Homo sapiens: one gene and its partner. Changing the gene in region 2 together with the main gene of any one other region gives a genetic interaction. Each region holds a gene or a part of one and is shown on either strand. Other genes may lie near its edges.

What was found.
Region 1: of MRPL4 (region 2) and ATG7, changing one suppresses a phenotype caused by changing the other (phenotypic suppression), as found in Homo sapiens cells (one large-scale study listed by BioGRID).

Annotation. Positions count from the first base shown.
Region 1 is NC_000003.12:11,275,210-11,279,032, reverse strand, and holds part of ATG7 (ubiquitin-like modifier-activating enzyme ATG7), read right to left. Parts: exon of another isoform or gene 213-3,823; intron 1-212. UniProt on the Homo sapiens protein: E1-like activating enzyme involved in the 2 ubiquitin-like systems required for cytoplasm to vacuole transport (Cvt) and autophagy.
Region 2 is NC_000019.10:10,254,959-10,257,952, reverse strand, and holds part of MRPL4 (large ribosomal subunit protein uL4m), read right to left. Parts: intron 1,246-2,994; coding exon 1,128-1,245; intron 1-1,127.

The DNA of each region.
Region 1 (3,823 bases), on a different chromosome or scaffold from region 2:
ACATCATCAGCTGCAGAAACACCCCATGGCCTCTGCATAAGCTTAGAATTTTCTTGGCCACCTCCACATACCCATCATCTAGTGAATTTCTTTGCTCACTTCAAATCACAGCTCAATCATCACTTCTGAGGGAAGCCTTCCCTGACTCCCTCAGCTCTGGATTAGGTCGATCCTCCTGTATTCTAGTCCTCAAAGAGCACCAACTACCTTACCTTCATAGCACGTATGCAGTTATCCTCCTCAGTAGAATAAAAATTCTATGAGAAAGGAACCATGTCAGCTTCTCATTTTCCCCCATTCATCATTGTTTTTCTAGCACCTGACTTAGCACCTCATAGGTGCCCAATAAATACTTGTTGATGACTGAAACAAAGAATGAATAAATAAAAATTCTATGAGAAAGGAACCGTGCCAGCTTCTCATTTTCCCCTATTCGTCATTGTTTTTCTAACACCAGTCTTCGCACCTCACAGGTGCCCAATAAATACTTGTTGATGACTGAAACAATGAAAGAACAAACCAGGATGGTATGTTTGAGAAAATACAAATGAGTTCTGTTGCGGGAAGTCACGGACCCTGAACGGAGGGACCGGCTGGAGCTGCAGCAGAGAAACATAAATTGCGAAGATTTCATTTTAATATGGACATATATCAGTTCCCAAATAATACTTTTATAATTTCTTATGCCTGTCTTTACTTCAATCTCTGAACATAAATTGTGAAGATTTCATTTTAATATGGACATTTATCAGTTCCAAAAATTAATACTTTTATAATTTCTTATGCCTGTCTTTAATCTCTTAATCCTGTTATCTTTGTAAGCTGAGAATGTAAGTCACCTCAGGACCACTATTGTGTTAACTGTACAAATTGATTGTAAAACATGTGTGTTTAAACAATATGAAATCAGTGCACCTTGAAAAAGAACAGAATAACAGTGATTTTCAGGGAACAAGGGAAGACAACCATAAGGTCTGACTGCCTACAGGGTCAGGCAGAATACAGCCATATTTTTGTTCTTGCAGAGAGCCTATAAACAGACGTGCAAGTAGGGAAGATATCACTAAATTCTTTTCCTAGCAAGAAATATTAATAATTAAGACCCTGGGAAAGGAATGCATTCCTGGTGGGGGGGGGGGGGTCTATAAAGGGCCGCTCTGGGAGTGTCTGTCTTACGCAGTTGAGATAAGGACTGAAATATGCCCTGTTCTCCTGCAGTACCCTCAAGCTTACTAGGATTGGGAAACCCCACCCTGGTAAATTTGAGGTCAGACCAGTTCTCTGCTCTCGAACCCTGTTTTCTGTTGTTTAAGATGTTTATCAAGACAATACATACACTGCTGAACATAGACCCTTATCAGGAGTTTCTGATTTTGTCCTTGTCCTGTTTCCTCAGAAGCATGTGATCTTTGTGACCCACTCCCTGTTCGCACACCCCCTCCCCTTTTGAAGTCCTTAATAAAAACCTGCTGGTTTTGCAGCTCGGGTCGGCATCACAGTCCTACCAATATGTGATGTCACCCCCAGAGGCCCAGCTGTAAAATTCCTCTCTTTGTACTCTTTCTCTTTATTTCTCAGCCAGCTGACACTTATGGAAAATAGAAAGAACATACCTTGAAATATTGGGGGCAGGTTCCCCTGATAGAGTTCTGTATGGCAGCAAGGAGAGGCACATGGGGCAGAGTAGATGGACCATGCCATAAAAGCAGGCAAAGGCCATATCATGAAGAGCCTTATGTGAAAAGCTATGCAACTGTATTTCTGCATAGATCTCTATTTTAGTAAAGGCAATCCACAGCAGTGAGGACCAGACTGCTGAGGCAGGGCAACCAGCTGGGAGGCTGTGCAGAAAGACAGGCAAAAAGGGAGGGGAGCCTGAAATGAGGGAGCAAGGGAGGAAATGGAGGAGATGTGAGTCAGGAGATAGCAACAAAGTCGAATCTATAGAACTCTGATGACTACCTGGACTTGGAAGATGGAAAGGAGGGCTAGTACCAGAGGAAGAGTCTGAGATGACTCTCAGGGTTCTGTTTTGGATGACTAAATGAAAGGAGAGGAATTGGCAAGATTCAAGAATGGAGAAAGAACGGCAGGTTCAAAGGGAAGATGAGGAGCTTAGTTTTAGACTTGTTTGAGTTTGAGGGTAGCACTCAGGAGAGATTCGGGCTATGATACAGAACAGGGGTCATGAGCATATAAACAAGTTTGAAGCTGCGGTTGAAAAGAATATAGTAGAGGGCAGAGTCTTGGCAAAAATTGGCATGTGAGGGACAAAGGGGAAGAAAGGAGCCCACAATGGAAATTGAGGGACAAATGGCCAGAGAGATAATACAAAGTAGGACTGGGTTTTCCTAAGTGAGGGGCAAGGTCAGCAATGTCAGATGTGCCAAGAAAGATAAGAAGGAAAAGTGGTCAGGTATTCTGGCAATGTCGAGGTCTGATGACTTTGGGGAGTGGTGGGACGAGAGCAGGATTTTAGCAATGACTTAGGGAAGTACAGGAAGCAACTCTAGATAACTCTTCCAAGAAAGGTGGCTGGGTAAAAGAGGTGTGACAGGGTGCAGCATAGGTTAATTGGAGGGTTTTTGTTTTTTCCAAAATGAGAGTAAACAGAGAATATTTAAATGAGAAGGGTTGATGAAACAGAAAAGAAAATGAACAAATGATGGAACCCAGTCCTTGAGGCAAAGGAGGCGATGGGATCTCAAGCACAAATAGAGGACTTAGTCTTAAAACACCATTTCTTTCACAGAATTAGAATAAAAGGCAAAAGGATAGGGTCAGCTAAAGATCAGTTGGTAAAGGATAGAAGAGGAAGCTGCGATGCCTTAATTAATGGCTGCAACTTAGTGGAGCAAAAGTCAAGGTAGGAGGTTGAGGAGAGGAATGAATATGAGGAAGACATAAAGGGAAATGGACAAGAGAGCTGCCTGAGGATATGGGGAGGGCTGAGCCACGCTGAGGGCCTATTTGGTGGCACACTAGTGTAATAGTGTCAAAAGCACAATGTGTCTATAATGGAGCTGGCAGGGCTTTAGGTTACCACAAGAAAAGTGCAGTCTTGCTCTGCATGGTTAGAGTCCTCAAGGAAAGAGGATTTCCTTTCTGTACCACACACTCAAAGAGAGGCTGACAAACCAGAGCAAGTTCAAGGATGGTAACTGGGATGAAGGTGTGAGGAAATCCCAAAAGTGATCATTCTGAAGCCGGTCTGAGATGGAGTGAATAGGCTATTCCTCAGTCTGCCAAGATCATGGTAATACCTACTGACTACCAATTAACAGAGCAGCACCTCCAGTATTTATTGTCCCTTGATTATACAATCAGGCCTTAATCGCACTGGAGAAGGGTGGGGAGATCAGGAGATAGAAAGGGGAGAGGAAGCGGTGGCTCACGCCTGTAATCTCAGCACTTTGAGAGGCTGAGGCAGGCGGATCACGAGGTCAGGAGATGGAGACCATCCTGGCTAGCACAGTGAAACCCCATCTCTACTAAAAAAAAAAAAAAAAAAAAAAAATTAGCCGGGCATGGTGGTGGGCACCTGTAGTCCCAGTTCCTGGGGAGGCTGAGGCAGGAGTATGGAGTGAACCCAGGAGGCAGAGCTTGCAGTGAGCCGAGATCGTGCCACTGCACTCCAGCCTGGGCGACAGAGTGAGACTCCATCTCAAAAAAAAAGAAAAAAAAAAAAAGAGGAGAGGAAGACATTAGCGAACGTCATTTCCATGGGTAGAAGTGGACGACAGAGGCAAACTGAATTCCAAATAAAATCAGAGGTCAGGGTTAATCTATTAGAGACACTAGTCAAAGAATTTTGTTACTGCTC
Region 2 (2,994 bases):
ATCACTTGAGCCCAGGAGCTCAAGGCTGCAGTGAGCTATGATTGCACCACTGCACTACAGCCTGGGCAACAGAGCGAGATCTTGTCTCAAAAGCAAACAATAAAAAAAACAAACCACCTTGAGATCGGACAGTTCCTGCCCCATAGGACACCATGAGTTATGGTGTGGATTCCATAGAGTGGCTAGAGTGTGAACTTAACTCAAGCACGCTGTTAATGCTGAAGTTATCAGGAGGTTCGAACTTTCAGGTCAAGCGGGAGAGGAAGGCATCAGGCACATGCTCCGGTGGAGCAAGCAGTATGATCTGGGAGCAACAACAGTCAGGGAGACCCCTGCAAGCACCATGTGTTGGTGTCTGCCCTCGCCTGGGCCTTGGAAATGCAGCAGAGAAGACAACAGACATGGTCCCTGCCCTCATGCCATTCACATTCCGGCAGGGCAGAAAAGAGGCTCAGCTGTAGAAGAAATCAGGGTAGCTCCGGGGGATGTGGAAGGAAAGGAGATCAAGGGGGGCTTCCTGGAGGAGGTGTGGCCCAGAACCCTGAAAGGTGAGGAGAGCTGGCCAGGTAAACAGGTGATGGGGTGGCTGGCACCACCCTGAGTCATCTTGTTAGCATTCAAGAAAATAAAAAGTTAAAAACAAACACAACCGAAAAAACAAGAGAGAGTCATCTCTGCCTGGTCAGAGAGGGAAAGGAGGGGATGAGGGGGAAAGGTGTGCAGCCACCAGGGCCCACAATGACAAGGTCAGGAGTTCAGGTTCCACACAAAGGCCGAGGTCCGGAGTTCAGGTTCCACGATTTAGAAGAGCTCTCTGGGTGCTGTGGGAAGTGTGGGTCAGGAGAGGGTGACAGGAGGTGGGGTCAAGAGGGGCTGTGGCCACAGGCTGAAGAGACAGGGCATGCGAGAGGGAGGAGTGGATGGCTCCCAGATCTCTGTCCCCTTATATGGGTAGTGAGGTCCAAGGGCCTCAGTTCCGATGTCACCAGCCCAGGTGGTTCCATGAGGTGGAGGGAACAGGGCTGACATAATACCATGCCAGATGTGCGCAGCTGTGTGTGAGTAAACACCCAGGCCCTTCCCTGGCCCCCCCACCCCTCCCCGCCCCCTCCACCCTGTCCTGTTACCTCCTCGCCAGAGCGGAGAGCGGATGCTGCCATGCCGGGCCCGCCCAGTGCCTTTCTGCGGCCAAGGCTTCCGGCCACCGCCCCGCACCTCGGCTCTCGTCTTGGTCTTGGCATAGCTCTGGAGGCACAAAGAGGAGGGGGGTCAGGTCCACGAGGCAGGTGTCAGGGAGCCGGGCAGATCAGTCCTGCCACGGGGAAGTCAGACAGGAGGCACCATGATGACGGGCTCTCTCTGGCCAAGCACAGAGTACTTGGGGAGCGAGGGGGAGGGTAAAGAAGTCACAGCTCCTGCCCCATGCCAGCCTCACAAAGGCAGGGGCCCTGCCACCGGGCACGCAGGGGGTGCTCGGTATTTTCTGAACTATTGATTTTTTTTTTTGAGGCAGTCTCACTCTGTCACCCAGGCTGTGGAGTGCAAGTGGTGTGACCTTGGCTCACTGCAACCTCTGATTCCTAGATTCAAGCGATTCTCCTGCCTCAGCCTCCCTAGTAGCTGAGATTACGGGTGCCTGTCACCATGCCCGGCTAATTTTTTTTTTTGAGATGGAGTCTCGCTCTGTCGCCCACGCTGGAGTGCAGTGGCGCGATCTCGGCTCACTGCAACCTCCGCCTCCCAGGTTCAAGCAATTCTCCTGTCTCAGCCTCCAGAGTAGCTGGGACTACAGGCGCCCGCTGCCACACCCAACTAATATTTGTATTTTTAGTAGAGATGGGGTTTCACCATATTGGTCAGGCTGGTCTCGATCTCCCGACCTCGTGATCCATCCGCCTCGGCCTCCCAAAGTACTGGGATTACAGGTGTGAGCCACCGCACCTGGCCCCAGCTAATTTTTTGTATTTTCAGTAGAGATGGGGTTTTGCCACGTTGACTAGGCTGGTTTGGAACTCCTGGCCTCAAGTGATCCACCTGCCTTGGCCTCCCAAAGTGCTGAGATTACAGGTGTGAGCCACCGTGCCGGCCTATTTTTTGAACAATTTTAATGTGGTTGTAGCCACAAGGAGGGAGGGCCATGGGAAATGACACAGACAGGGAGAATCAGGAAAGAGGAGCAGGGCAAGGAAATCAGGAAGAACTCAGAATAGCAGACTGATGACTTTATTCCTAGGGTGATGGGGAGCCAGGGAAGGTGTGAGCAGGGGGAGGACTGGCCAGACCTCTGGGGTGGATGGATAAGACCCTGACTGGTAATGGATTCTTCAATGTTCTTGGCACAAAACCCAGACTCCTCCCCACTGCTCCCACTGGCCTCTGTGGCAACACTGGCTTCCTTGTGGTCCCTGCCACAGGGCCTTTGCACACCCTGTTCCTGTTATCTCCACACTAGCCCCACTGCCTCCTTGATCTGGTTAGCTTCTACAGTAGACCCAAGGTTGAACGTCCCATTCTCTGGGACATGCTCATAATTACACATTACGTATGACCATCTGACTCACCTTCACTTCTCCTCCCATGACACTGTGACCTTCATTAGAATAGGGACTTTGCCCATCTTTTTCTTGGGGTTGTGGGGGAAGGGGTAGAGACTGGGTCTTGCTGTTTCCCAGGCTGGTCTTTCCTGGCCCCAAGCAACCCACCCACCTCAGCTTCCAGTGCTGGGATTACAGGCCTGAGCCACTTGCACACAGCCGGACCTTGCCTGTTTTGTCCTCGTGGTCCCTGCTATATCCTCTCACCCACCACAATGCCCACATCAGTGAGTGATCAGAAAACAACTGAAAATGAGCTGGGCACGGTGGCTCACGCCTGTAATCCCAGCACTTTGGGAGGCCAAGGCAGGTAGGTTCCTTGAGGTCAGGAGTTTGAGACCAGCCTGACCAACATGGTGAAACTCCATCTCTACTAAAAATACAAAAATTAGCCTGCATG